Homo sapiens: one gene and its partners. The protein of the gene in region 1 interacts with the protein of each later gene in a pairwise test. Each region holds a gene or a part of one and is shown in the gene's direction. Other genes may lie near its edges.

Region 1 (8,534 bases):
TGCGAAACTCTTCTGGGTCGCACTTGCTGTGCTCATTAGCAGTGGTTGCAGCGGGCTCTGTGGGCCAGCCACTAGACCAGCAGATGGCGCTTGTAGGCAGGAGATGGCTGAAGTGGGTGCAGTAGGGTATTTAGGCCTAACCTCAGCGCCCTAGGAGTGCTCAGGTGTTTCACTTGGTGGACTAGGTTGTGCAATCTCTGGGGGATTTTAAAAGTTTATTTTGCAATTGAGAATGGGATGTTTAGAATTTTTGTCTCCTACTGATTAAAGGTAGAGTATGGGGAAAAAAACAGGCAAAACTAGGAGTTTAAAGAAAAGGAGAGAGAAGAAAAAGAAATGAAGATACAATAATACAGAAAGAACAGAGGGAAAAACTTTATTTATATTTAATACCTATGATGTGACATGCCCGGAGTTAGGAGCATTCATAAGCACCATCTCATATTATCCTCCAACTAAGCTACTCATGTCAGAAAAAATTAAAATTAACAAAGGTCAACAGGGAGTAAGAAATAGAAAATGGAAAGGAAACAATTTTGGAGTGAGACCTACAAAATGATCTCAGAATTTACCCTCTGATAAGTCTTTCTTTGATCCCAGAGTGCACAAAATGTTACATGAAAAAACAAATTAATATAATTACATCTAAATTTCAAGCTTTCTATTTCATAAAGATTATGAGTCAAAACTGAGTGAGTTCAGGGACTCAGAGAAGACATTTAAAATATCTAAATGTGCCCAGTTTTACGGTTTTAGGCATGCGAGTTTTAGATTTTTTTGCTTTTTTATTGAGACAGGGTCTCTTTCACCTAGGATGGAGTGTAGTGGCGTGATCTTCACTCACAGTAGCCTCCACCTCTCAGGTTCAAGCAATCCTCCCATTCAGCCTCCCCAGTAGCTGGGACTACAAGTGCGCACTACCATGCTTGGCTAATTTTTAACTTTTTTGGTAGAGACGGGGATCTCACTATACTGCCCAGGCTGGTCTCGAACTCCTAGACTCAAATGATCCTTCCACCTCCACCTTTCAAAGTACTGGGATTACAGGCATGAGCCACTGTGCCCAGCCAAAGTTTCAGATTCTTCTTAAAGGAATAAAGTCAGAGATCTTAGAAATGAACTAAAGCACGAGCATACAATAAACAAGAGAGAAAAATCAGATGGTTATCAAGAATATGAATGGATATTCAAACTCGGTGTCAGAGAAATGCAAATTAGATATTATTGCATGTTACTTTAAGTTCTATAAATTACTATACTATGGAAAGAAATATGGGGTGATGTAGCTGCAATCATGTATATTTCATGGAAGAGTCAAAGACTGTAGCAGTTTCATAAAGCAATCTGCACAGGTACTGTAAAAAAAATGATTTTCTAGAATATCATGTGACACAGAAAGCCTGTTTCTGGTATATCTCTCAGTCAAGTCCATAAATTCTTATGTGAGAGAAGTTTTCTCACAATACTGTTCAAGGCAGCAGGGACATGGAGACAATATGTTGTAGCATTAAGTGTAAGAGGAGGACCAAAGACATCTATGAGTGAAGTAGAAGACTGAATGTCCACACTAAAGTACAACAGGGCAGTTACTAGCATTTAAGTAGACTTTGACACAGGAGTATATATACATATTAAACACACATTTTGAGTACCAACAAAGGGAGAAAGAAGTCTATAGTACAGTACAATTAAACTACACAAAAAGTAACAGTGCTCCTCTTTCTAAAACACATGTAAATACAAAAACACACAACAGACCTTTAGAATTGTTGTCTACAAGTGGTGGGGTGATGAAGTGTGAGGAACAGGAATGAGTGGAAACACGTCGGAACATTGAACAAGACGAGGTCCTTGTGGGGACATAAGGAGAGAATGTCCACTCACTGTCCAGAGCCTCCTGGGCCATTGTCACCATACAGCCGCTCATTACATGAAAGTGGAATTTCAAAAGGTAGCGAAACACCTAATAAAATATGTTGAAAGGGCTGGGCATGGTGGCTCATGCCTGTAATCCCAGCACTTTGGGAGGCCAAGCCGGGTGGATCATGAGGTCAGGAGTTCAAGACCAGCCTGGCCAACATGGTGAAACCCTGTCTCTACTAAAAATACAAAAATTAGCCAGGTGTGGTGGTGCACACCTGTAGTCCCAGCTACTCGGGAGCTGAGGCAGGAGAATTGCTTGAACCCAGGAGGCAGAGGTTGCAGTGAGCTGAGATCGTGTGACTGCACTCCAGCCTGGGCAACAGAGCGAGACTCTCTCTCTCTCCCTCTCTCCATATATATATATATATATACATACACATACACAAAGATATGTGGCCTGTCACCAAGTGTTAGATGGATGTTTGGGCCAGGCGAGGTGGCTCATGCCTGTAATCCCAGCACTTTGGGAGGCTGAGGCGGGTGGATCACCTGAGGCCAGGAGTTCAAGACCAGCCTGGCCAACATGGTGAAACCCCGTCTCTACTAAAAGTACAAAAATCAGCCAGGCGTGGTGGCCATGCCTGTAATCCCAGCTACTCAGGAGGCTGAGGCAGGAGAATCGCCTGAACCTGGGAGGCAGAGGTTGCCGTGAGCCGAGATCGTGCCATTGCACTCCAGCCTGGGCGACAGAGAGAGACTCTATCTCAAAAAAAGAAAAAAAAAGTTTGTTTAGTTTCTGTTGGTAAATATCTAGAAATAGAATTGTAGGATGGTAGGGATGTATTGTTGGTAAATGATTAACATGTTTTTAATTTTCAGTTTTTTCAGAGACGGGGATCTCACTATATTGCCCAAACTGGTTTTGAACTTATGAACTCAAGTAATCCTCCCGTCTTAACTTCCATGTAGCTGGCACTACTGAACAGCTTTAACTCTTCCAGACCTTCAGTTGGGTGGTTTTTTCTTTTCCTTTCGTTTCCTTCTTTCTCTCTCCTTCCTTCCTTCTTTTTGTAATTTGATAAACCAAATTTCAAGACTTTGGCCAAAAAACAGTCTTCTCCTTTACTGAATATCTCAGTGCTCCATTTTATTTTTCCCTCACCAATTCTGCAGGAGAGATCACAAGACTATGTCCATATCTTTATTTGTGGGGGTATGATTTTCAGCTAACATAGCTGCTAAGTGATTTAATTTACAATTATAGTGGTAGAAAAATAGCTCTAACTTCTGAGGTTTTGTAATTTATTGTAAAAAGCGGAATACAGGACATTTAAAGTGACCTGACAAGGTCAATACAGGACTGAGGACTAATTCATTAAATACGTCTTACGTGTCTTAGAGGACCACAGACAGCTAGCAACCCTACTCCTAATGTGTCCCATGCACTTAGTATTGTACCTGGCATCGAATGAGTGTTCATCAAATATGTTAGAGTAATAAATACGACAGCACAGTTTCCCTATTCAGCTTTACTTTTCTGGTAACTCTTTTAATATATAGTCTTTACCTCTCCCTTCAAGCTGTTAATGCACAATGTTTTCAAGTTTGAAAAAGAATCAGATTTTGGACACCAAACTTGAGTGTGTCCAAGGTTCCAGGACAACCTTAGCTTTTTTCCTCCTATCACAAATATGTTTCTCTATAACTATTTTTGCCACTTTCTTTGGATATCTACATAATCGTCATTAATAGTTTCAGTAATAGCCATTTCACAAGAGTTATTCAGAGACAATTTCAACTCCCTGTGCAGACACTGTTGATACAATTTCAGGCGAAATGATAAATCACTTTCCACTAATGAGATGAGATCATGCATTCCCAAACCTTTATCTCAGGAGTAAGATGCTTTCTTTGCACAAGGGCTTTGACTGGTGGAAGGCCACACTATTCTGGCAGATAATGGTAGATAAGTCGCTTTTCCTTTTCAGTTAGGTTTCAGTCTCTTAAAATAAGTGGAAAATATCTCAGATATAAAGTAATAAGTATCATGTGAATAAAGTGTTGCTGGGTAGGCTGAAAGACAATAACTGATTATTCAGAAAGGAAAGATATTACTCCTCAAACTCCCCATCATGCCATGTCTGGGTCTTTTCAATGTGCCCAGCAGAGCACATTGAAGATCATAAAACAGTCTCCAGAGCTTCGTTCTGTGTGTATTTGGCAAGCACAAAAGAGCTGACCGCTATGCGTGGAAGACCAGTTCTTTATGGTTGGCCATGTTCCTTCGGATGTTCGTCTTTTGGGAACTTGCTGTGCTTTACAGAATCTGAAAGGACAGGTCTCTGAAACATTTCTCTGACTTGTTCTAGACTGCCTTCCGGGAAAATCTGGATGCTTGCCGTTTAAAAGCCAATGAAGCCCCTCCACGTCCTTGGAGCCCCGCAACTGCATTTCTCAAAGCCTCAGGAGGATCCTCCTGGCTTTCATCCTGAACGCGAGTTAACTTAAGTTCAGAAGCGGGGCAGGCAGTGGCCTGGGAACTACATTACCCAAAAGACACAGCGGCGGACACAAGCAGCGAGTGTAGCCAATGAAGGCCTAGCAGAGCGGCGTCTACGGGGGTTCGCAATGCGTGTGGGCGGGACTTCCTGCAACGCCTCCTGGGGTTGTCAATATGGCTGCGTTGGGATCTGTTCACCTTCAGGCTGAGTCGAGACTGAGGTGAAAAAGCGGAAAAACGCGAGAAAAGGTTTCCCCGTTGTACAGAGGCTAGAGTGAGGCTCGGTTGAATCGGTTGCAGGCGTTGGTGCCTCTGTCAGCGTCCAGGTCACTGCCGCTCCCGCCCCGCTCTTCCCTGGCTGTGCTGGCGGAGGCTGCGCCGATGAACCTGACTGAGGTGGGTGCCGCGTCCCAGGGCGCCCCGCCCGATCCCTCCTCCGAGTGCCGAAGCCCCGAGGAGGGGCCCTGCAGGTCAGGCCCCTGTGTCCCAAAGAGAGGAGCGTTCTTGTGTGGGGTACCGGTGTCCGCGGTGCTGTGAGGCGGGGGAGCTCCTGTCAGGGACCTGCACGTGCGAGGCTTAGAGGTGCTGCAGAGCGGGCGGCACTGGGGAGCCCGAGCGTCTTTGTCTCCACGGAGCTGAGGGTGAGGCGGAGTCTCGCCTGGGAGGGCAGCGGAGCTGCTGAAAGCCGTAGAAGGCTGTGCAGGAAGGGTTATGCCCAGAGGTAGACGTTTAAAGTTGGGAAAAACAGGATGTTAAACCAGGACAAGGGGACCGCTGAGGAGACCCCTTGAGTTATGGTAGGGATGGGCCAGAGGGGTTGCAGTAGAGGGGAAGTGTGATGAGATTCTGGATGGATCTCAGAGATAGAGTCGACAGGATTTCCTGCTGCATCAAATGTAGCAGTGAGGGTAGTGAAGGGTCTATTCCATGGATTTTGTTTTGGCCTGAAAATCTGAAAGAATGGAGTTGGAGAAGTCAGCTTAGGGAGCAGGTTTCAGAGAGGATTATGAGTTGCATTTTGGAGGGCTGAGTTTTGGAGGGCAGATCATGGGTGGGTCCATAAGCCTGACGCTACCTTTAGAAAGGCGCAGACCTGTCATAGGAGGGATTCTGGCTCATATCTGCAAAAACGGAGTTCTGAATGGGTTAAGGAACTGGCCTAGGCTGGAGACTGAGGTGTGAGGTGGTTTAGATTTCTGCACCTGCAGACCCAGCAGCCCCCCAGGCCCACTCTGTGGAACAATAGGAAGGTCATCCAGACTAGTGGGGACATTGGGTCCAGACGGGGGTAGGGCTTTCTCACATCTAGTCAAGGGCCTCCAGCAAGCTTCCAGCAACTGAATTTGTAGCAGGCAGGCCTGGTTGCTGATGGGACCAGTAACTGACCTGCTTGCTTATCCCCTCCCTGCAACTTATTTATTTATGAATGTGTAAAACATTTTTTTTTTTTTTGAGACAGAGTCTCGCTCCATCGCCCAGGTTGGAGTGCAGTGGCGCGATCTCGGCTCACTGCAAGCTCCGCCTCCCGAGTTCAAGCAATTCTCCTGCCTCAGCCTCCCGAGTAGCTGGGACTACAAGTGCCCGCCACCACGCCAGGCTAATTTTTTGCATTTTTAGTAGAGACGGGGTTTCACCGTGTTAGCTAGTATGGTCTCTATCTCCTGACCTCATGATCTGCACGCCTCAGCCTCCCAAAGTGCTGGGATTACAGGCATGAGCCACCGCGCCCGGCCGAATGTATAAAACATTTATTTAACCACTAATGAACCAGTATCCTTCTAAATATGTACACATAGGTCGGCAGTTAGAAATGAATGTAACCAATAGTTAAATTTATTCACTTAATAATTGTTGAATGTTGATTTTTCTTTTTTCTTTTTTTTTTTGAGACGGAGTCTCGCTCTGTCGCCAGGCTGGAGTGCAGTGGCGTGGTCTCGGCTCACTGCAACCTCTGCCTCCCGGGTTCAAGCGATTCTCCTACCTCAGCCTCCCGAGTAGCTGGGATTACAGACATGCGCCACCATGCCCATCTAATTTTTGTATTTTTGATAGAGACAGGGTTTCACCATGGTTGGCCAGGATGGTCTTGATCTCTGCACCTCGTGATCCGCCCACCTCGGCCTCCCAAAGTGCTGGGATTAGAGGCTTGAGCCACCATGCCCGGCTGAATGTTAATTTTTCTATTTGCTTGCAATGGAAAGTTTTATGTATCACATTTCCTTAACACCGTAAGAAGTGGGAAAAATACACACCCAAAATTTCAAAACCCTTCCATGTCATTTGTACCGAAAACATGTAAAAAATATTTAATCCAGTAGAAAGAAATTGCTGATACATAGTGTGTACTACTTATATTTGATGCCCATATAAGCCCTATTAGTTGGCAATCCTTTTAATCTCTATTTTACACATAAGGGCACCGAGACTTAAGGAAGTTCAGTCCTCATCAAGACACTGAACCCTGAGGACTTACTGTGTACCCTCAGATAACTTTGCTCTAGTTGCAGGGCCAGAGGTGGTTGTACAGTCAGCCTGTAGGATGCTGCAATGCTGTCTTAATCCTCATGGCCTGCCTCTTCCCACAGGGTTCATAGCAGTGGCAGCAATGCTTATGGATGCTGGACAGGTGAGTGGAGAGTGTTTCCAGCTTTCACCCATCCCAGATGGTTTCAGCATGCTGATATAGGGAATGGTGTTATCCTGAGACTGTTCACCTTTTCTTCTCTCTCCCTTGGGTCCAAGGAGAGCCTGTAGTTCCACCAGACCTGGGTTCCAAACTCAGTGCCTGGTTATATAGAGTGGTTCTAGTTCTCACAACTGATGGTTTGAGATTTGGCAAGGCATCTCAAACACAGGATCTAGAATGTTCAAATGCTTGGTGGTGAGACTTAGATGGGATGCTTAGAGAACTGTAGCTTAATGTTCTAGCTGGCAAGGATAAGGAGCACAGCAGCAGGGCAGGAGGTCGGGGCATGCAGGGATCAGGCATGGAATGGCAGCCTGAGGTTGTCTAGGTTTTTGTTTTTGTTTTGTTTTGTTTTTGAGACAGAATCTTGCTCTGTCTCCAGGCTGGAGTGCAGTGGCGCGATCTCAGCTCACTACAACCTCCGCCTTCCTGGTTCAAGCGATTCTCCTGCCCCGGCCTCCCGAGTAGCTGGGATTATAGGCACCCGCCACCATGCCCGGCTAATTTTTGTATTTTTTAGTAGAGATGGGGTTTCACCATGTTGGCCAGGATGTTCTCAATCTCTTGACCTCGTGATCTGCCTGCCTCGGCCCTCCCAAGGTGCTGGGATTACAGGCTTGAGCCACCACACCTGGCCTTGTTTTTTTTTTTTTTTCCAGACAGAGGCTAACTCTGTCGCCCAGGCGGGAGTGCATTGATGTGATCTCGGATCATTGCGACCTCTGTCTCCCAGGTTCAAGCAATTCTCCTGCCTCAGCCTTCCAAGTAGCTGGGATTACAGGCATGAACCAACACACCCAGCTAATTTTTGTATTTTTAGTAGAGACAGGATTTCACCATGTTGGCCAGGCTGGTCTCGAACTCCTGGCCTCAAGTGATCTGCCTGCCTCAGCCTCCCAAAGTGCTGGGATTACAGGTATGAGCCACCGTGCCCAGTGGTTCTAGGTCTTTAATCTGAGGGGGGTAGTAGCTAGGGAAGGTTTGAGAAAGAAAAAAGAGGTGATTTGACCTAGATTCTTTTTTTTTTTTTTTGAGACGGAGTCTCCCTCTGTCGCCCAGGCCAGAGTGCAGTGGCGTGAACTCGGCTCACTGCAAGCTTCGCTTCCTGGGTTCACGCCATTCTCCTGCCTCAGCCTCCCAAGTAGCTGGGATTACAGGCACCTGCCATCATGCCCGGCTAACTTTTTTTTGTATTTTTTAGTAGAGCCAGGGTTTCACCGTGTTAGGATGGTCTCGATCTCCTGACCTCATGATCTGCCCGCCTCAGCCTCCCAAAGTGCTGGAATTACAGGCCTGAGCCACTGCACCCAGCCAGATTTGACCTAGATTCTAAGAGGCTTCCTCTGCCTGCAGAATGGAGGACAGAGTGAGAGTTAGGGAAGAACCAAGGATACCTGGGTGATAATTCCTGCCACAGTCCAGTGGAGGTTGGTGGTGGCTGGACACGAGTGGCGGCTGTGGAGGTGGGAGGGGTGGGTGGCTTCT
Region 2 (4,288 bases), on another chromosome or scaffold:
CAGGTGCCACCTCCTTGCAAGGCTGTGGCTGGACCAGGCACATCACAAGCAGCTTCCACGGTTGGCACCAGGAACATGATGTTGCCCAGAAGCTTGGAGACTAGGGAGTCACTGCCCTGGCTCAGGGGGCTCCCAGGACAGAGCTCCCCAAAGGGCCGCAGCTCTTCTCTTCACCTGCTGTGTGGCAAGCAAGAGGCGTGTTTCAGCCTGTTTGTGTTACAGCTCTCTTAGCCCCACCATTTGGCAGGTCTCAAGTTCTTGTCCTGCGTTCAGGAAGAATGAGGTACACAGAGAAGTAGAGGGTGAGCAAGATGAAGAGGAGCTTTATTGAGTGATAGAACAGCTCAGAGTTGAACTGCAGGGGGCAGTTCCTCTCTGCAGGCAGGTTTTCCCCGTCATCTCTTGTGCTCTCAGCAGAGAGGGTAGCTCCTCTCTGCCACTGGTCGTCCCATTGTCTCTTCAAGTCTGGCTAAGTCCGGGGCTTTTATGTGCCTCAGAGGAGAGGAAATGCGTGCAGTTGGTCCATGGGCAGTCATGGACAGACCCAGAAAAGCACCACAAGTTCCCACTCCAGTCCACATGACTGGCAACCTGGCCCCCAGGCTTCAGGGCTTCTCTGGCTTGAAGGTGGGGCTTCACCGGGGACCTCCCCTTTTCTGCCCAGGAGCTTCTTTGCTCCCTGCTTCTGTTTATGGCACCCAGGCTGTTCATGCTGAGGGGGCACCTGCAGGCTGGCACCGAGCTGTCCTGAGCACCCCTTCCTCAGCCTCCCTTCCATGCTTATTGGCACCCAAAGTCTGGAGCAGGCCAATGGGGTAGGAGGTGGGCATATCAGCACTGCCTCAAGCGTGTGCACACCCAACCAGGTTACAGCAGAGCCCAGGCTCAGCCCCAGCCTTGCTTTGAGATTGGAGCAGGTGCTGACAGCAGGGAGAAGCCAGGCAGCAGGAGCAGGTGCTTCTTGAGCCCGTGGGGGGAAAGGGGCCTTCCTGGACCCCTGAGAGTGCAGAGATGCCTGGATCTGCAGCCACAGCAGGGTAGCTACAGTGATGCCTGGGAGGGCAGGAGCGCTCCTGCCTGCTCCCAGCTTCCAAGAGCACAGGGGTGCCTGGGTCACAGCTGCAGCTTGGGCAGCTGCAGGCAGTTGTGCCTGGTAAGCTCCCACACCGTCAACTTGGAAAGGGCAGGGCTCGTGCTTGTCCCCAGCTCCCACTGGCTCCATGAAGTGTGGCACCACCCCTGGCCCAGCTCTGCCTCAGGGCCCCTCTCTACCCACTCCTGCATGCCCTAGTGTGCTGTTTTCCCCTGCCAGCAGGTGACTCAGCCTGGCCCCATCGCAGTGGCTCTCATGGCGGCAGGTTTCAGGGACTGCCCACCTCCTCTCCATGTTTTCCCAGCAGCAACAGCAGGCAAGGTGCAGGTGGTGCAGTGGCCCTGGCCAACCCTGCACAAATGAACCTGACACTCTCAGGACTAGCCCCACAAGTCCCGGCTGCACCTTCAGCTGGGTGCTCACTGGCTCCTTTCTGAATATGAAATCTTCTCCTCTTCCCCAAATGAAAACAGACGCTCTTGCCAAATGTAGTTTGGACATTGTACCTAAAAATCAAAATCTAACTCTAGGAAAAGAAGGAAGAAGTGAGGTTTCATGGTTCATTAGTGAAAGGCACAGAGGTCTTAAAGGGGACAGAAATGTCTAAGAAAAAGGAGAAACTCTAGAAAAGCAAGGAAGAAATAGGGTAGGCACCCTTTATTTTTACTGAACATGACAGAGTGAGCCAAAATTGAATAGAAGGTATTGGTGCTCAAGGTTAGGGAGAGCCACAGTGGGTAGGGTGGGACCGTTACCTTCAACAGAACCGAGGGTGTTCCCGTGCCCTTCACGCGCTCTTACGTGACTCTTCCACGTGATTGCTCCTGTCCCTGTGGTAACCAAAGACGAGTTAGCTCGCCTGGGACAGATGCGTGAAGAGGACTGTTGACTAAATGAACCCTGGTAGCTGGAGAAATGTGTGGCCACAAGCAGGAGTGACAATTAGTATTCACCACGGTCCTTGCAGAAGGTCTTCCCAGGTGCTCTCTGTTTACCCCAGCCCTTGTCTTTCTCGTCAGTGTTATGTTTTAGATCCCTGAAGGCTGACAGCTGAGAGGAAAGATTCCAATTGCATTTTTCCATGAAATCTTATCTTCATTATTATTGGCCTTTTCAGGGAAAACAAGTCCAACCTGGAAGAAGACTTCCTTCTAAACCAGGCAGACGAAGTCAAATTACAAATCAAATGTGGTCGTTGTCAGATTACTGCTCAGTCTTTTGCGGAAATAAAATTTCATTTACTTGATGTTCATGGAGAGGAAATTGAGGGCAGGCTACAAGAAGGGACCTTCCCAGGAAGCAAGGGGACTCAGGAAGAGTTGGTGCAGCACGCTAGCCCCGACTGGAAAAGGCATCCTGAGAGAGGGAAGCCGGAGAAGGTTCATTCCTCCTCCGAGGAATCACATGCATGTCCAAGACTGAAAAGGCAGCTCCACCTTCATCAGAATGGCGTGGAAATGCTCATGGAAAATGAAGGACCCCAGTCAGGAACCAACAAGCCAAGGGAAACCTGCCAGGGCCCTGAGTGTCCTGGCCTCCACACGTTTCTCTTGTGGTCCCATTCAGGCTTTAACTGCCTGCTTTGTGCAGAGATGCTGGGACGGAAAGAGGACCTCCTCCACCACTGGAAGCACCAGCATAACTGTGAGGACCCTTCCAAACTGTGGGCTATTTTAAATACGGTCTCCAACCAGGGAGTGATCGAACTTTCCAGTGAAGCTGAGAAATGAGACCCCAAGGCAGCCTGGGGTTAAGGAGAGAGCTCTGCCGCCACCTTCCTTCAGAGCTTCGTGCTTTATGGTGGTGCTTAGTCACAAAGATCAAACAACAGGATTGGTGTGAGTGAACAGAAATGATTTTTGTACATGGTTTTATTTTCTTAACGAAATAAAATATAAGCTCTCGAAGCATATTTTTCTAACTATATGCAGTCTTATTTTAAAATACGTACTGATTCTTAATATCTTAGACTTTCAGAATAAATAAAAAGATCAAAATTTGAAGATTGAAATTTAGCAGAATATAGGCTGTTCTTCAAATACAGCTCTCAGTGAAAACATGCATGTGTCCTTCCTTTTGTTCAGATGTTTTCTGCTTATATAGATTGACAAATGTCAAAAATGTCCAGGCAGCAAAACCCTTTTAATCTCAACCATAGTATCAAGTTAGATGGTAAATGCTGATATTTATTAAATTCTCTGGTTTATTTGAATATGATATAGAGCAGTATTTTAATAAGATTGTCATCTACAATAATTTAAAATCCATGTTTTCAGGACTCAGATTTTTGTTTCTTGTAATTTTGCTATTTTCTTAAATGCACATTTCATTGAAGATTAGTTGTTGGCAAGTCTTATAGCTGTAGTGTTCCATATCAAAATAATTTTTTAAAAAATTTAGTACTTCAGCTAATAAAAAGTCTACTTGCTTGGTAAAAAGTTATTTTCAAGTAGTCTTTGGGACCAGAAAATTTACAACCTGGAAAATGAACTAGATAGTTCAGTCCAGATGTGTAGGGGTCTCAACTGCTTTCCCTCACTCCCAAGTAACTTCAGAGGGTTGTCGCTAGCTGATCAATTTTAGATGGAACTGTACTTTTCAAGCCCAGTTCTCTTTGAAAGTCAGAAGTAAATGATTGCCTCTTAAATTCCTGGGAAATTACCTCGAATCAGTAAAGTTGTCATTTGAAGCTTCTGGCCATCCTGGCTGCAAAATCATTTTCTTAGAAAAGTGGAGTTTCAGCACTCATCCTACTGATAATCTCAGTCTTGGATGAAAGCACCATACGTGTGGCCAGCCCTGTTTGCTGAAACTCAGCCCAGGTATGGTCATAATATTTTGTGCTCAAGGAAGTTACCTAAACAGAGAAAGAACTAAATTCTAATTGATAAGCTGATGGATCTTACATCTTTTTTTAATGTCTGATTTTAAAAGCCAGTGTTTGTAGACATGATTTGCCTCAAATAGTACAAGAGAAAACTTAATCTTTGTCTTTTTGCAAATAGTTTTGTAAATTTGGGAATAAGAGAGTAGGGATAGAAATATCTGAAAGATTGTGTTGTGGTTTGTCTGTTGATCACGCTTTACCCAGTTTCAAATAGGGAATATCAGACCTCCACTGTTTGATAGTTTTAGAACTTCTTGGTTAATAATGAAGTCGCTTTACCATTCAAACCAGTTCCCAGTTTGTTTTTT
Region 3 (8,889 bases), about 44 Mb from region 1:
TACCCACACTAAGGTCTTTGCAGTGATAGAAAGAAAGGTGTTTATTGCAGGGCACCATGCAAGGAGAATCAGGGCAGCTCATGCTTAAGACCTGAAATCACCAATGGCTTGCAGGTGGGGGTTTTTTAAGGCAGGTGTAAATTTCAGTAAACCAGAAGCTACAAGCAAAATCATAAATCAATGCATGGAGATTACACATTGGTTTCCACTTAAAAAGGCAGGATATCTTAAAGTGGGGGCTTACAGGTCGTAGATAGATTTAAACATCTAGGCAGGGCACGGTGGCTCACGCCTGTAATCCTAATACTTTGGGAGGCCAAGATGGGAGGATTACCTGAGGTCAGGAGTTCGAGACCAGCCTCGCCAACATGACGAAGCCCTGTCTCTACTAAAAATACAAACATTAGCCGGATGTGGTGGCACATGCCTGTGATCCTTGCTACTCGGGAGGCTGAGGCAGGAGAATCGCTTGAACCTGGGAAGTTGAGGTTGCAGTGAGCCGAGATCATGCCACTGTACTCCAGCCTGGGCGACAGCAAGACTCAGTCTCAGGAAAAAAAAAAGAAAAAGAAAAAAATAGAAAGCCTGGGCGCAGTGGCTCACGCCTGTAATCCCAACACTTTGGGAGGCCAAGATGGGAGGATTACCTGAGGTCAGGAGTTCGAGACCAGCCTGGCCAACATGACGAAGCCCTGTCTCTACTAAAAATACAAAAATTAGCCGGATGCGGTGGCACATGCCTGTGATCCTCGCTACTCGGGAGGCTGAGGCAGGAGAATCGCTTGAACCTGGGAGGTTGAGGTTGCAGTGAGCCGAGACCACGCCACTGCACTCCAGCCTGGGCAAGACTCAGTCTCAGGAAAAAAAAGAAAAAGAAAAAAATAGGCTGGGCGCAGTGGCTCACGCCTGTAATCCCAACACTTTGGGAGGCCGAGGCGGGTGGATCACGAAGTCAGGAGTTCAAGCCAGCCTGGCCAGCATAGTGAAACCTCGTCTCTACTATAGATACAAAAATTAGCTGGGCATGGTGGCAGGTGCCTGTAATCCCAGCTACTTGGGAAGCTGAGGCAGGAGAATCACTTGAACCCGAGAGGTGAAGGTTGCAGTGAGCCGAGATCACGCCACAGGACTCCAGCTTGGGCAACAGAGACTTAGTCTCAAAAAAAAAAAGAAAAGAAAAAGATTTAAACATCTTCTGATTTGCAATGGATTAAGGAAGAGAAGCTTTGTTTAAAAATTTTGAGTCAGTAGAAACATGTCAACTGGTTAGGGGAAGTAACTTTCTCCAAGCCCCTCAGGAGGAAACTTGGAACAAAAGGGACATAAAGTTTAGTCTTCACTTCCCCCTTATCTGGGGTTTCCAAGACTCTGAAAGACAATTCAGGGACATATGTTAAGATGTTATCTTTAATTTCTATAGGGAAACCAAACATCTCTGGGACTCTAACTTCCTTAGCTTTTGTTTTGGATCATTATGTCTTTTTTGTTTAACAAGTTACTTATTTACTTCTCAAGGCTAGCTAGGGGCCTGGAATTTCCCTTGAAGGAACTCAGAAATTTCCTTTGTTTCCATGCTTGGGGTCTCGTAAAAAAGGGGATCCCTGCTCTGTCTCAGGGTCTTACTGACCCTCACTCCAGCCCATTCTCAAACACCCTACCCTCTTTAAAAATTTCTCTGGGGTTAGGCCGGGCGCAGTGGCTCACGCCTGTAATCCCAGCACTTTGGGAGGCCGAGACGGGCGGATCACGAGGTCAGGAGATGGAGACCATCTTGGCTAACATGGTGAAACCCCGTTTCTACTAAAAATACAAAAAATTAGCCGGGTGTTGTGGCGGGCGCCTGTAGTCCCAGTTACTCGGGAGGCTGAGGCAGGAGAATGGCGTGAACCCGGGAGGCGGAGCCTGCAGTGAGCCGAGATCATGCCACTGCACTCCAGCCCAGGCAACAGAGCGAGACTCCGTCTCAAAAAAAAAAAAAAAGATTTTTCTGGGGTCTCATGGTCTTTTAAGTCAAATGCATACAACCCAAAACAGTATAGCTCAGAGGACAAGGGAACAAGGTTTAGCATGAGCAGTTGTAGGTCAGCTCCTCCACCCCTCACTAACTGTGCGACTTAACCTCTCTGGGCCTGTCTCACCATCTGTAAAACAGAAATGATGAAAAGTATCTACCTTCTAGGGGCATTCTATGAGATTATGCATGTGTGAGTGAGCACCAAGCATTGCTCAGTGGTGCCTAGTGGGTAGTGAGCACTCAGTATGCAGCACCATGACTATGTAAGAATTCATTTGTTAGTAGAGCCCGGCTTTAGAACAGAGATGGAACCTGGCACCGAATAATAAAGCATGGGGAGGCCGGGCGCAGTGGCTCATGCCTGTAATCCCAGCACTTTGGGAGGCCGAGGTGGGCAGATCACCTGAGGTCAGGAATTCAACACCAGCCTGGCCAACGTGGAGAAACCCCGTCTCTACTAAAAATACTAGCTGGGTGTGGTGGCGCATGCCTGTAATCCCAGGGCTGAGGCAGGAGAATCGCTTGATCCCGGAAGGAAGGTGGAGGTTGCGGTGAGCCAAGATTGTGCCTTTGCTCTCCAGCCTGAGCAACAAGAGCAAAACTCCATAGATAGATAGATAGATAGATAGATAGATAGATAGATAGATAGATATAGATATATAGATATCTATAGATCTATAGATATCTATATATATATATATAGATATATATATATATCAGGAGGAATAGTAGTAATATTGTCATCACTTCTCACCCTGTCTTTGATAAATTGCCAGTTGAAGTGTCTGCTTCATCACTGAGAAAAGAGTGTGTTCTTTCCTCTCTGAATCCCCAGGACCAGACATATAGCAGGTGTCCAATGAACAGCTCAGCTGTTGAATGAACAAATAGATTCTGTTAGGCCCTACAAGGCATAAAAGTAAATTCAGTCTGGGCACAGTGGCTCATGCCTGTAATCCCAGCACTTTGGGAGGCCAAGGCGGGCAGATCATCTGAGGTCAGGAGTTTGAGACCAGCCTGGCCAACATGGTGAAACCCCATCTCTACTAAAAATACAAATATTAGCCAGGCATGGTGGCGGGCACCTGTAGTCCCAGCTACCTGGGAGGCTGAAGCAGGAGACTCACTTGAACCTGGGAGGCAGAGGGTGTAGTGAGCTGAGACCACACCACTGCACTCCAGCCTGAGTGACAGTGAGACTCCGACTCAAAAAAAAAAAAGTAAATTCAAAAGCCATTCACCTGTGCAGAAGGCAGGGCCAGGCTAATCTGAAGGCTCTAAGAGAAGTATCCACCCACTTCTTCTGTAAAAGGCCAGATGGTAAATATTTTAGATTCTTTGGGCTCTCTCTTCCTCTGTGGCAACCACTGAATTCAACCCTGTTGCAGACATAGACAATAGATAAATGAATGGGCCCGGCTGTTTGTAGGTAGGTGAAAAATGGCTTCCCTTCACCTTTATAGGTTCTTTGGCTGGGCTACGAATTAAATTGACATGTAAACAGACAGGGCAAAAGCCATATTTAATTATGTACCTATGCAGGGGAGTCCCACAAAATACAAGACTCCAAAAAGGATCAGAGAGGCTGGGCCCAGTGGCTCATGCCTGTAATCCAGGCACTTTGGAAGGCCAAGGCAGGCAGATCACCTGAGGTTGGGACTTCCAGACCAGTCTGGCCAACATGGTGAAACCCCATCTCTACTAAAAATACAAAAAATAGCCGGGCGTGGTGGAAGGTGCCTGTAATCCCAGCTACTCGGGAGGCTGAGGCAAGAGAATCACTTGAACCTGGGAGGTGGAGAGCGCAGTGAGCTGAGATCACGCCATTGAACTCCAGCCTGGACCACAGAGCAAGACTCCCTCTCAAAAAAAAAAAAGTATCAAAGAAAAGAATAGGGGTTTGGGGCTTCTGGGAGGATGGTGGTAACACAAGTTATGGGAGGGTAAGGGGAGAAATTGTATGATGGAGAAAGTCTGTCTTGTTAAGCAAATAAAAAAGTCTTGCAGGTAATAAAAGTTGTCTCAGAGCAGCCCTCAGAAGGATACATGATTGGGAATGGTTTCACTCTTCCCTAGTTAATAAGATCGTAGGAAAGCATTCCTCTTTCTGTCTTTAGGCAGATAAGAGAAATTCAGAGAAAACCTCTCCTTCCCTGCATTTGCTGTTCCCCCAAGTGCCCTTATTTTGAAGCAATCAGCAGACAAAAGCGCATATCCCTGTGTTCCAATGAAATTTTATTTACGTACGCTGAAATTTGAATGTTTTATTTTCATAAGTCGTAAAATAGTTTTTCCCCCACCTAACTATTTAAAAATGCAAAAACAGAGCAGTGGTTCACGCCTGTAATCCCAGCACTTTGGGAGGCAGGAGGATTGCTTGGGCCCTGGAGTTCGAGACTAGCCGGGGCAACATAGTAAGACCTTGCCTGTGCAAATAATTTTTCTTGAGACGGAGTCTTGCTGTTGTTGCCCAGGCTGGAGTGCAGTGGCGCGATCTCGGCTCTTTGCAACCTCTGCCTCCCGGGTTCAAGCAATTCTTTTGCCTCAGCCTCCCAAGTAGCTGGGACTACAGGGGCCCGCCACCACACCCTCGCTGACCGGCTGCAGCGCGCAGGACAGCACGCCTGGGAGGGCGGTGCCAGGAGGCGGGCCTCGGATTGGGCCTCACGTAGTGGGCTGGACAGAGGATGGAGCCTCTTGGCGTAAGCGCGGTTGGGCGGGGCATTCCTGGATTGGCCCACTCCGGCGTCGCAGAACGCTTGGCGTATCGTCCTTCAGCCAATCAGCGTGGAGCTGCTGCCTCGCCCCGCCTCACGCCGGCGTCCTGGGGGCGCGGAGAGGGCGCCCAGGTTCACCGCGCTCTCAGCGCGCACTTCCGGGCACGGTCAGGGCGTGACGTCGGGAGGAGGGCAGGTAAGTGCCGGCGGGCGGAGGAGCGGGGAGGGCCGGGGGTCCGGCAGCCGCCTCACCCTGGCCTCGGAGCTGCCCGGCGCGCCCTTCCGCGTCGGGGGACGCGGAGCTGAGGACCCGATTTAGATGCCCGGAGCCGGCCCAGGTCCCAGCCAGGACCAAAGTCCCTGAGGCCCCAGCTGAGACCTCTGACCCAAGTGCCCGGGACCCGGTCCCATCCTAGCCCGGATCCATATTATGCCTGAAGGGTCCTGGGTTTTTGCATCGGGAAAATGGGACCAATAAGTCCCTATCTCACCAGATTTTATAAAAATGATTCTTGTAAAACCGTGAGCAGCAGAAATGACTAAACTGCCAAACGTTTAACTCGGCGTCAGGCGCTGCCCTGAATGCCTTAACCAGCCATTTTTACACATAAGGAAAATGAGGCTTAGAGAGAGAAAACAATTTGCCCCAAGTCAAGCAGATAGGAAGCAGCAGGGTGGAGCTCCGAGCCCAAGCCGTAAGCCCAGGACAAACAGGGTCGGTAATTACTTTTGCACCAAGGACCGGAGATATCTACACGCCCACCCGATAGCCCCGTCTGCCATTTACTGGGGTAACAAAACCATCTTAAGACACACACACACCCTCGAGCTCCTGTAAACGGAGTATTTGCTCTTTGCAGGCTCTTCCCGTGGGTTAGTTGATTCACAGCATCCCCAGAAAGTCAGTCTTGTCGTCGTCATTCGCCCTTTACCGGTGACGAAATACAAGCCCAGGGAAGCGCAGTCACTGACCAAGGTCACCCAGCTGATGAGGAGTGGAGCTGGGATTCAAGCCCAGGGAGCCGTGTCCCCTAACGCCTCAAGGGGCACTTAGCTATTTTGTTGGCAAAAGTATTTTTAGGTTGGAAGGGACCTTGGAATAATCCAATCTAAAGGACACACTTTATAGTTGGAGGATACAAGACTAAGGTGAGGGTAGAACAGTTTATATCCGGGACTTTGCACCACTGCCTCACCACCTCACTACACCACTCCCACTCCATCAGAAGCTCTTCCATCAGCTTCTTTCTTTCTTTTTGTTGGAGACAGAATCTCACTCTTGTCACCTTGGATGGAGTGCAGTGGCGTGATCTCGGTTCACTGCAACCTCCGCCTCCCAGATTCAAGCGATTCTCCTGCCTCAGCCTCTCCAGTAGCTGGGATTACAGGCGTACGCCACCAGGCCTGGCCAATTTTTGTATTTTTAGTAGAGACAGGGTTTCACCATGTTGGCCAGGCCGGTCTTGAACTCCTGACCTCAAGTGATCCACCTGCCTCAGCCTCCCAAAGTGCTGGGATTACAGGCGTGAGCCACCGAGTCCGGCCCCCAAGAATGGTTTTAAATTTTCTAGTAGTTGGGGAAAAATCAAAAGAATAATACTTTGTGACATGACGATTATGTGAAATTCAAATTTCTGTGTCCATCAATAAAATTTATATTGGCATGCAGCTACGCCCGTTCATTTATATATTGTTTGGGACTGATTTCTAGCTATGAAAGCAGAGTTGAGTTGTTGGGGCAGAGATAATCTGGCCTAAAAAGCTAGAAATACTTATTTTCTGGCCCTTGACAGAGAAACTTTGCCAATCTCTGTTCTAGAATACCCTTCACTGCTTCACAGAGTCTCTCTTTAGTGTAAACTAGAACTTCTTTCTTTTTTTTTTTTTTTTTTGAGATGGAGTCTCGCTCTATCGCCCAGGCTGGAGTGTGGTGGCGCAATCTTTGCTCACTGCAAGCTCCGCCTCCCGGGTTCACGCCATTCTCCTGCCTCAGCCTCCCGAGTAGCTGGGACTACAGGCACCCGCCACCACGCCCAGCTAATTTTTTGTATTTTTTAGTAGAGACGGGGTTTCACTGTGTTTGCCAGGATGGTCTCGATCTCCTGACCTCATGATCCACCCGCCTCGGCCTCCCAAAGTGCTGGGATTACAGGCGTGAAGAACTTCCTTCTATATGACCTAAAAGCCTCCCTTCCAAACATGAGAGGGGGTCTCACCACCCCTAGTTTGAGGAGCCCCTGCATTTCCCACCTGTGTCACCTGCACTGACTGTGACCCTTATGGAGCCTCATTCAGTTATCTCAGTTGTTTACCCAGTTGACATTTATCTGGGCCTGGCACTGTCCTAGGTGTTAGGGATATGGCACAGTGTGACCTGCCGGGGGAGACATAAACCGACACAGGGTGATATGATCAGAATTCCAGGAAACAAGTGACTATGGATTGGATGGTTAGATGAGTTCATTGGTTTTTTTTGTTTGTTTGTTTGAGACGGAGTCTCACTTTGTAGCCTAGGCTGGGGTGCAGTGGCGCCATCTTGGCTTACTGCAACCTCCGCCTCCCGGTTTGAGCCATTCTCCTGCCTCAGTTTCCCGAGTAGCTGGGATTACAGGCATGCACCATCACACTCGGCTAATTTTTGTATTTTTAGTAGAGATGGGGTTTCACCATGTTGGCCAGGCTGGTCTTGAACTCCTGACCTCAGGGGATCCACCTGCTTCAGCCTCCCAAACTGCTGGGATTACAGGTGTGAGCCACCGCACCTGGCCGGATGAGGTCTTTGATGGATATGATATGTAGGTCAAGACCTGTGACAGGGGGCTGGGTGCAGTGGCTTGTGCCTGTGATCCCAGCACTTTGGGAGGCCCTAGGTGTGTGGATCACCTCAGGCCAGGAGTTCCAGACTGGCCTGGTCAACACAGTGAAACCCTGTCTCTACTAAAAATACAAAAAAATTAGCCAGGCTTGGTGGCGGGTACCTGTAATCCCAGCTACTCAGGAGACTGAGGCATGACATCACTTAAACCCAGGAGGCAGAGATAGTGAGCCAAGATCATGCCACCCCACTCCAGCCTGGGTGATAGAGTGAGACTCCGTCTCAAAAAAAAAAAAAAAAAAAAAAAGCCTGTAACAAAGAGCTTGCAAACCTGAGGAACAGCAGGTGCAGGCCAGCTGCACTTGGCCTTTGAAGACAGCCAGGAAGCCAGTGTGGCTGGAACAGAGTGAACGAGAGATAGAGGGGTAAGAGTTAGGCTTGGAGAGGCAGGCAGGGGCCCCACAGGCCGTGGGAAGGGGTTTGACTTGATTCTAAAAACCATATGAATCATGGGAGGGGTTTAAGCAGGAGAGTGACACGTTTGTTCATATTAAAAGATCCCAGCTGGGCATGGTGGCTCACACCTGTAATGCCAGCACTTTGGGAGGTTGGGGCGGGTGGATCATGAGGTAAAGAGATCAAGACCATCCTGGGCAACATGGTGAAACCCTGTCTCTATTAAAAATACAAAATTAGCTGGGTGTGGTGGCGCACGCTTGTAGTCCCAGCTACTCGGGAGACTGAGGCAGGAGAATCACTTGAACCCAGGAGGTGGAGGTTGCAGTGAGCAGAGATCGCGCCACTGCACTCCAGCCTGGTGACAGAGCGAGACTCCATCTCAAAAAACAAAAAGATCCCCTGGGCAGCTGTGGGGTGAGCAAGTGTCAAGGGCAGAGTCGGGAGAGAGAAGACCGTGCTGGCCCACGTGAGTGATGATGGGTGCTGGACCCGGTGGGGGCCACAGAGGGATGAAAGTGTCAGATGTGATGCGTATATTGGCTGTAGAGTGGACGGGACTCTCTCTTTCTAAACAGACACGCCGCTTTTTGGATGCCTCCTATGCCTGGCGGGAGTCTTGTCTGAGCTGGCACCACCACACGGCCCACGACATCTTCGCAGGGAAGCCTGTGGACCCTCTGCCAGGCTCCACAAGAGGTCAGGACAGTGCAGTGTGTTCACAAGGCCAGTTTCTGATCGTCCGCCCCGAGGCTGAGGACCAGTAGGCAGCTCCCAAGATGGTGAGTAGACAGCCTCGTGTGCCCTGGGTTTCTCTCCCAGTCTTTGTAGGACCCTGGAAGCAGCCCCTCCTCCCCTCCCAGAGCTCTAAGATGATGATTTCAATC
Region 4 (8,371 bases), on another chromosome or scaffold:
TTAGGAGTCCCAGAGTCATGCTGCCTCACCCTCTTGTCATTACATTGTAACCAGCAGTTTCATGCCTGCCCTTCCCCCCATTAAACTTAGAGGTGAGGGCTGCATTTTGGGAGACGTAGCTGGAGCTGGATAGAGAGTTGACTGTTCTGGTGACTAGGTCTGGCTCATAGGGGAGGGTTGTGGTGGAGCCTTCCTGGGCTGGGTGTGGATAGGCCCAGGGCCTGCAAGGAAACGGGAAGCTTTGATTGGCTGAGGGCAGGCAACTCTTATGGAAGAAGCACTGAGGAGGAGTCCTACCTCAGGGCTCAGTGTGGACCTGTTGGCACTTTTACTGGGTCTCAGTCCCTTTTCCTCCACATGGGATGCAGAGACCTCCTGCCCAGCTTGAAACCTACCTTGCTGGGTGAGCCACATAAAACAACTTGTGCTTGTTTTCTCTTCTATAAAATGGGATCCACAGTACTGATCTCCAGGCTTGCTGTGAGTCTGAAATCTAAGGGGAGCACTAGACAGCGCCTAGCACATCATCAGTGCTCTAGAGTGCATTTGTGCGCAGCAAAATGTGGGTGAGTCTTCCTAGTTTCCTTCCAGTGAGCTTCCTGGGAGCATTAACAGGACTGGAAGGGATGGAAAGGTGTGAGGGGGTTCATCTAAACCCAAAGAACAGCTCCTGCTGCTTAGTAGGCACTGATGGCATGCCAGAAGCTGTGCCAAGCACTTCTCTATCCTCACAGCCGTATGCTGTGGACATCCCAATTTTACAGATCAGAACAGGAGGCTCAAAGAGATGTGTATGTGTCTGTGGCGGGGGAGATGTTCCAGGCTCTGGAGATTTTTTGGTCTGTGCTTGGGACACTGCAGCACTGTGGGGGAATGCCAGCCTCTCTCTGTTCCAGTCTTTCTGGCGGTGGGGTTCTGTCCTCTTCAAAGGGAGCCGGGGGCCGGGCGCGGTGGCTGACGCCTGTAATCCCAGCACTTTGGGAGGCCGAGGTGGGCAGATCACCTGAGGTCAGAAGTTCAAGACCAGCCTGGCCAACATGGCTAAACCCCATCTCTACCAAAGACAGTTAGCCAGGCGTGACGATGCATGCCTGTAATCCCAGCTACTTGGGGGGCTAAGGCAGGAGAATTGCTTGAACTCCGGAGGCGGAGGTTGCAATGAGCCGAGTTCGTGCCATTGCACTCCAGCCTGGGCGACAAGAACAACAACAACAACAACAAAAAAAAAAACAACCAGAGGGGCCAGGAGGAGAGGAGAGAGGCAAGGGAGGAATTCTGAGTGAGGGGAGAGGCCAAGAAGAGAGAATGCAGAGCTTCTGGTGTTGGAGACGGGGAGAGAGCAGAGTCCTAAGAGTGGGTGAATAACCTCTCAGTGTGCCCCCGGCTCGCCTGTGTTTACTCACACCCCTGGCCCTTTTGCTTTCTCTTTCTCTTCAACTTCCTAGTGTGCTCATATTTATCTTGAGAAGCACTGTGTGGGGAAGGGCAGGAAAAGAGGGGCAGGGAGGTGGCAGGGAGGGTTGGGAGGCCAGAAAGGGAACCTGAAAGCCCACTCCCCCATCAGAAGGCATTACAGGGTTCCCTGGGACCCCTGCAGGTGCTTGGGAAACAGGCAGATAAGGCACTTAGGAGACATTGTGGGTCAGGAGTGACCCTATGGGTCAGGCTTTGAGGATGGAAGCAGCCAGCCCTTGGCATAGTGTTCTCAGACAGACTCAGCCCAGGAGCGGGTCGTGAAATCAATTTGGTGGGGTGTGACCTGCATTTTAAATAGGAAATTAGAATCACATCACCCTTGGTAAGGGTAAGTTTTGGTTTGTGTGTGCTAGGTCATGATGTCAAAAGTACTTCTGACTGTTGGTCACATTAAAAAAACTGAGGCAGGGTGCGATGGCTAACTCTTGTAATCCCAGAGCTCTGGAAGGCTGAGGCTGAAGGATGGTTTGAGCTCAGGAGTTTGAGACCAGCCTGGGCAACATGGTGATACCTCCTCTCTACAAAAGATAAAAACAAAATTAGCCAGGCAAGGTGGCAGTGGTGCTTGCCTGTGGTCCCAGCTACTCAGAAGGCTGAGGTGTAAGAATCCCCAGAGCCCAGGAGGTCAAGGCTGCAGTGAGCCATGGTTCTGGGCGACAGAGAGAGACCCTGTCTCATAATAATAACAACAATAAAAATAGAAAAACTGTTTTAAGGTAAGGGCTTTGTCAATTGCTACTTGGTTTAGAATCTTGGTTCTGTCACTTGCAACAAAGTTTAGTTTATGCTAGGCACAGTGGGTGGCTCATGCCTGTAGTCCCAGCACTTTGGGAGGCCGAGGTGGGCAGATCACCTGAGGTCGGGAGTTCGAGACCAGCCTGGCCAACATGGTGAAACCCCGTCTCTACTAAAAAATACAAAAATTAGCTTGGCATGGTAGTGGGCGCCTGTAATCCCAGATACTCGGGAGGCTAAGACACTCACCGTGCACTGTCTTGAACATGAAAGATGCTGCTTGAGCTTTAAGAGCTGATAGTGGGCCGAGCTCAGTGGCTCATGCCTGTAATCTCAGCACTTTGGGAGGCAGAGGCAGGTGGATCACCTGAGGTCAGGAGTTTGAGACCAGTCTGGCCAACATGGTGAAAACCTGTCTCTACCAAAAAATACAAAAATTAGCAGGGCGTGGTGACTCACATCTGTAATCCTAGCAACTCAGGATGCTGAGGCAGGAGAATCACTTGAACCCGGGAGGCGGAGGTTGCAGTGAGCTGAGATGGCACCACTGCACTCCAGCCTGGAAGACAGAATGAGACTTGGTCCCCTCCCCCACCAAAAAAAAAAAAAAAAAAAAAGAGCCAATGGTAAAGTGTGAGTTCTGGAAGGCAGAATTCCAACCCCAAGTTCTGGTTAAAAATGTCCAAAGAGAGATTTCAGGTATTTTTTTGTTTTTGTTTTAGAGATAGGGTCTTGCTCTGTCACTCAGGCTTCAGTGCAGTGGCTGCATTGGGGCTCATTGAAGCCTGGAATTCCTGGGCCCAAGCGATCCTCCTGCCTTGGCCTCCCAAAGTGTTGGGATAACAGGAGTGAGCTATTGCATGGCCAGGATTTGAAATTGGCCAGCGTATCACTAAAATCAACAAATGGTACTGGCCGGGCGCAGTGGCTCCCGCCTGTAATCCCAGCACTTTGGGAGGACGAGGTGAGTGGATCACCCCAGGTCAGTAGACCAGCCTGGCCAAGGTGGTGAAACTCCATCTCTACTAAAAATACAAAAATTAGCCGGGCATGGTGGCACGTGCCTGTAGCCCCAGCTACTCGGGAGGCCGAGGCAGGAGAATTGCTTGAACCCGAGAGGCAGAGCTTGCAGTGAGCCAAGATTGCGCCACTGCACTCCAGCCTGGGGGACAGAGCAAGACTCCCGTCTCAAAACAAACAAACAAATGCTACTAATCAGGGTTTTTCTGGCTTTTTATGGTTCATGTCTTGGGGTGCTGGAGGGACAGAATGTGGGGCATCCGCATTACTTGAAAAGTATTATTTAAACAAAATGCTTTGGCCCTCCTTAGTGGTTCAGAACTTTGCCTCTCAAGTAGAACTTGTTGGCCCCTTTCATCTCTATGAACAGAACACCGCCTATCGCTTGGGGCTGTTGTGAGGCCTCGGTGAGATAACCGTGCCATGCGCTGCTGAAACTGGCACTTAACGCTCAGTATGATTCTTGCGGGCGCTGGGCACCGCGGACTAATGTGGTACCTCCCTGCCTTCACAGGACTTCGAGTTTAATGTGGCTTCAGTGTCGTAACCTTTATCATTTCATAACAGAAACGGGTTCAGAGAGGAAGGGTGACTTGCTCAAGGGTACAAGCTTGCTGGGCAGGGCTTGGACTAAAACCCAGGAATGGCCCTGCGCGCGGATTACACAGCCTGGGGCTTCGCACACGAGCCCGAGTTTGAGTCCGATCGGCAGTTCCCCATCTGGCATCCAGAATGGGGTGCCCCCTGCTTTCTCCACGAAGTGGAAGGCGCCGAGAGGCCGGGCGGAATTCGGGGCCCCCATACGAGGCCGGGCCTGCACTTTCGGGGTGGTGGGCGCCCCGCTCCCGGTGCCCCGCGGAGCAGGGAAGCCGCTCGCTCACCACGTGACGCGCCGGCCGGGGGCACCCGCGCCTCCGTGCGACGCCCCGCCCACCGGCCTGCCGCGCGCCAGTGTCCTGGGTCGGGCCGGAGAGGGGAGAGCGGGGGAGGGGACGCGGCGCGGGGGGCGGCCGTGCGTCGCCGCGCGCCTTCCTCCCACCTCTCGCCGGGCCCTGTGTCTCCGCGCCGCGACTCCGCCCCCTCATCCCGCCGCCCAGGCCAATGGCGCCGCGGCGCGAGCCTCCCCGGCCGGAGGCGGAGCATCCGCGCGGGGCCTGGCGCGCCTGCGCCCTGCGCCCGCCCCTCGCCGTAGGAGGAGGTGGAGGAGGAGGCGGCTCGGGAGAGCGAGCAGCGAGCTGGCTGGATCGCCGAGCGCGAGTGAGGGAGCCGAGCCGCCCGCCGCCGCCGCCTCCGCCTCCCCTCCGCGAACAGGAGCCCGGGCCGGGGCCCGGCACGCCGCCCCAGCCCGTCCCTCGGCGTCAGGCCGCGAGGGTAGCGCGCGCGAGCGAGCGAGGGGGAGGGAGAGCGAGCGAGCGCCGGGAGGAGGCGGCCGGACCGAGCGGGCGCCCGCGCGTGTGGCGTGAGGGGAAGCCGCTTGCCCGCCCCCTTCGCCTTCCCTTCTCTCCCCCTCCCCGCTCCCCCCCCGACCGCGGAGCAGCACCATGTCGGCGCCGGCGGCCAAAGTCAGTAAAAAGGAGCTCAACTCCAACCACGACGGGGCCGACGAGACCTCAGGTGAGAGCAGCGAGCCCGGGGGCCGGCCCGCGCCGCCATCTTCGCCGCCCGCCCCGGCCCGCAGGCCGCCGGCGGGGCCCGGGGCGCGCGCGGGGGGCGCCGGGCGGGGGGGCGCGGCGCGGCCGGGCGGGGGCCCGCGGACTCGGCGCCCTTTTTTGTGCGCGGCTGGGCTGGGGGCCTGGGTGGCCCGCGCCGCGGCGGCCGCGCTGCGAGGCGGGGGCGCTGCGGCCTGCTCGGCGCGGGCGGAGGAGACCCCCCCTTCCTCTCCCCCCTCCCTCGCTCTCCTCCCCCTCCCTCCCTCCCGAGAAGCCTCTCTTTATTGTGCTCCGCCATGATGCCTCGCTCCCATCAGCCGCCGCCGCCGCCACATGGTGCGGCCGGACGCGGCCCCGCGCCCGACCTCCCGCGCGGTTCCGCTTCGCGCCCGGCCCGCGGCGGCGCCCCCGGCACCCCCGCCCAGAGGCTGGCCCCGGCGGGGCTTCTGCCTGGAGCTCGGGTGGGGTGGGGGCGCGGGGAACACGCGGGCGGCCGCGCGCTGGGCCTTGGCCGGCCGGGAGGATGCTCTGGCCAGCCCGGGCGCACTCCCCACGTGGGGCGGCCGCCCCGTCGCGCCAGCGTGCGGAGAAACCTGGCGCCGCGACCAGTGTATCGGGGGTCTTGGAAATGGCTAAGAAAGCTGGCCTCTGCCTAGGAGGCTCTCGGCAGGGGGGCTGCCAATCCGGGATGGTTACCGGAAATGAACCGCGCGATCTGGCCCTTTCACACCCACTTAGCTTTGTAGGGGGTTTGTAGTCTTTACAGGACAAAAGGGCACCTATTCCAGAGCACACCCCCTTTTCTTCCTCTCCCTTCTGTGCCTCACTGCTTTCCGATCTCATAGTTGCTCCCAGTAAGTGCTCCAAAGTCGTGTGGGGCCGCATCTGAGGTCTGCCCGCCTGAATTGGGTTGGAGGGGTTCATGTTCTGAGAAGGCGAAGGCCAGGGTGTAGGATGGTGCCCCGTGACTTTCCAGTCTTTGTAGGCGTGCCTGGTATCTTCATCGTAATAGCAGAGTCGTCAACTTTCTATGAAAGGTGGTTTTACCTTGATAGGTGGTAGTGGTGGCCTAATTTGTATCATTGTCATGGGTTTAGTTTCCATATTCTAGTTAGCAGCTGCTACTGTTCTCTTGCAAGTGTATAATGTGAAATAATAAACGTGAAGACTTCTGAATAAGGTTATTCTGTGTCTTTCATAGTAGAAACCTTAATGATCGGTCTGTTGTAGTGAAACTCTTTAAAAAGGCGCTATAGAAAACCAATTTCTGAGTAAACCAGCAGACAGCATGACTTGTAAATGGTCTTTTAATTAATTAAAAAGAAATTAGTCAGCTACAAGCATGAACATGTGGAACGCTTGCCTTTGTACTAGGCGTTTTTGTTTTTGTTTTAATGGCTTTTGGAATATTATAGTATTAACATCTGGAAAACTAGGTAAATTTATCTTAGAATTAAGTTTTTTGCTCCTTTTTTGCAGAAAAAGAACAGCAAGAAGCGATTGAACACATTGATGAAGTACAAAATGAAATAGACAGGTAACATTTTTCTTAATATACTTCGGAGAAATTTTCTGAGATGTGTCTAATAGCCCGGTAATTATCGAAGCTATGGTCAAATCTATCCACTGTCAAAGGGGAAATGATTCTAACTTGGTTGGAAATACTTATGTAGATTCAGTGTTTTTTGGTGAAGTGATTGTACAGAAGTTTTTGAAAGTGCATTGACCTTACAAGGTTTGGGTTTGCTTTCAAAGACTGAAAATTGTCTGAATTGCAGTGTAGGTCTTCTGATGGTTTAGCAGTGTGGCATCAGTGGTTGCTCTAACTTGCCTTACAACTTTGTTATGGATTAGCCACTTTATTTAGAAATCGCGCTTGAGGGAAACAATTGAAATTGGACTGGAAATGGAGTGGGCGAAGTAAATACACACGTTACCAGAGTGTTGAGTTTGGGCACTCTTAACAGTCATTATTACTCAGTGTTTATTGATAAATCAGACAAAATTGCCATCTTAGTTTTGAGTGTCTAAATTAGGTGATAATGGTTATTATAATTTGGTTATTTTGCATGACTCAAGCTAGTAAGTAAATACACTCTGTAATCTCAACCAATTTTTTAATTTGTTAAATACTATCATTGTCAACATCTCTTTTCATTTGCTTCAGACTTAATGAACAAGCCAGTGAGGAGATTTTGAAAGTAGAACAGAAATATAACAAACTCCGCCAACCATTTTTTCAGAAGAGGTCAGAATTGATCGCCAAAATCCCAAATTTTTGGGTAACAACATTTGTCAACCATCCACAAGGTATGTTTTGGACAGGGCATTGTTAAAGGATAAACAGTGTTTGTTAGAATGGAGGAAGCTTGGTGAAGACTTAGTCCAGCATGCTGGGTTGCGTGCAACAAAGACAGGCTGGGTGCGGTGGCGCACCTGTAATCCCAGCACTTTGGGAGGCCGAGGTGGGTGGATCACTTGAGGTCAGGGGTTCGAAACCAGCTTGGCCAACAGGTTGAAACCCCGTCTCTACTAAAAATACAAAAAAAATTAGCTGGGCGTGGTGGCGCGCGCTTGTAATCCCAGCTACTCGCTACTTGGGAGGCTGAGGCAGGAGAATCGCTTGAACCCAGGAGGGGGAGGTTGCAGTGAGCCGAGATTGTGCGCTTTTGCATTCCAGCCTGGGCGACAAGAGTGAGACTGTTTCAAAAAAAAAAAAAAAAAAAAAAAAACCTCAAAGACGGGAAAAGATATACAGCTACTGCTTTCTATTCTGTTTAGGAGAAGCTATATTCTAATTGCTTGATGAAAGATAGTGACAGTCTGATATTGAGCAATTGCCTTTAGTTAATAATGGGTTTATAAAACCAAAGATGCTCACTAAGTTCGGAAAAATTTTAAAGGGATCACTTAAATTGTTGTTAGTGTGTGCCTGTTGAAAATTCAGCTGACCTGTAATTTTCTGGCCTAGTGTCTGCACTGCTTGGGGAGGAAGATGAAGAGGCACTGCATTATTTGACCAGAGTTGAAGTGACAGAATTTGAAGATATTAAATCAGGTTACAGAATAGATTTTGTAAGTATCTCTAACTTAATCTTGTTTGCCACTGTGGAAATTAATGTGAGCTTTGGTTGGAAGACCTGTTCATATTTCTAATCTTTCAATTATTTATTACAGTATTTTGATGAAAATCCTTACTTTGAAAATAAAGTTCTCTCCAAAGAATTTCATCTGAATGAGAGTGGTGATCCATCTTCGAAGTCCACCGAAATCAAATGGAAATCTGGAAAGGTATGTTTTGAGGAATTATTTGACAAAAATAGCATTTTGCCTATTTCAGTTTAGTTTTAACCACTTACAAGTGCTTGATACTTTGGTCATGTGGCTAAATACAAAACCTTAAAATATAAAACGTTCCAGTGTGCTGAAGCCAAGTATTACAGTAGTTTAGGGTTCTCATTAGATACTACAGATGTAGGCAGGAAGATCTC

Evidence for each region.
Region 2: the proteins of ZNF17 (region 1) and ZNF438 interact in binary tests that used the Homo sapiens proteins (3 or more experiments, as listed by UniProt).
Region 3: the proteins of ZNF17 (region 1) and YJU2B interact in binary tests that used the Homo sapiens proteins (3 or more experiments, as listed by UniProt).
Region 4: the proteins of ZNF17 (region 1) and SET interact in binary tests that used the Homo sapiens proteins (3 or more experiments, as listed by UniProt).

The regions. Positions count from the first base shown.
Region 1 is NC_000019.10:57,406,648-57,415,181, forward strand, and holds the start of ZNF17 (zinc finger protein 17), read left to right. Parts: upstream 1-4,513; 5' UTR 4,514-4,744; coding exon of another isoform or gene 4,745-4,759; intron 4,760-4,786; exon of another isoform or gene 4,787-4,833; intron 4,834-6,948; 5' UTR 6,949-6,968; coding exon 6,969-6,989; intron 6,990-8,534. UniProt on the Homo sapiens protein: May be involved in transcriptional regulation.
Region 2 is NC_000010.11:30,843,496-30,847,783, reverse strand, and holds the end of ZNF438 (zinc finger protein 438), read left to right. Parts: intron 1-2,210; coding exon 2,211-2,823; 3' UTR 2,824-3,152; downstream 3,153-4,288. UniProt on the Homo sapiens protein: Isoform 1 acts as a transcriptional repressor.
Region 3 is NC_000019.10:13,743,028-13,751,916, forward strand, and holds the start of YJU2B (probable splicing factor YJU2B), read left to right. Parts: upstream 1-4,867; 5' UTR 4,868-4,927; intron 4,928-8,580; 5' UTR 8,581-8,781; coding exon 8,782-8,784; intron 8,785-8,889. UniProt on the Homo sapiens protein: May be involved in mRNA splicing.
Region 4 is NC_000009.12:128,684,811-128,693,181, forward strand, and holds the start of SET (protein SET), read left to right. Parts: upstream 1-4,411; 5' UTR 4,412-4,772; coding exon 4,773-4,845; intron 4,846-5,163; exon of another isoform or gene 5,164-5,176; coding exon of another isoform or gene 5,177-5,216; intron 5,217-6,359; coding exon 6,360-6,417; intron 6,418-7,047; coding exon 7,048-7,190; intron 7,191-7,851; coding exon 7,852-7,955; intron 7,956-8,057; coding exon 8,058-8,171; intron 8,172-8,371. UniProt on the Homo sapiens protein: Multitasking protein, involved in apoptosis, transcription, nucleosome assembly and histone chaperoning. Isoform 2 anti-apoptotic activity is mediated by inhibition of the GZMA-activated DNase, NME1.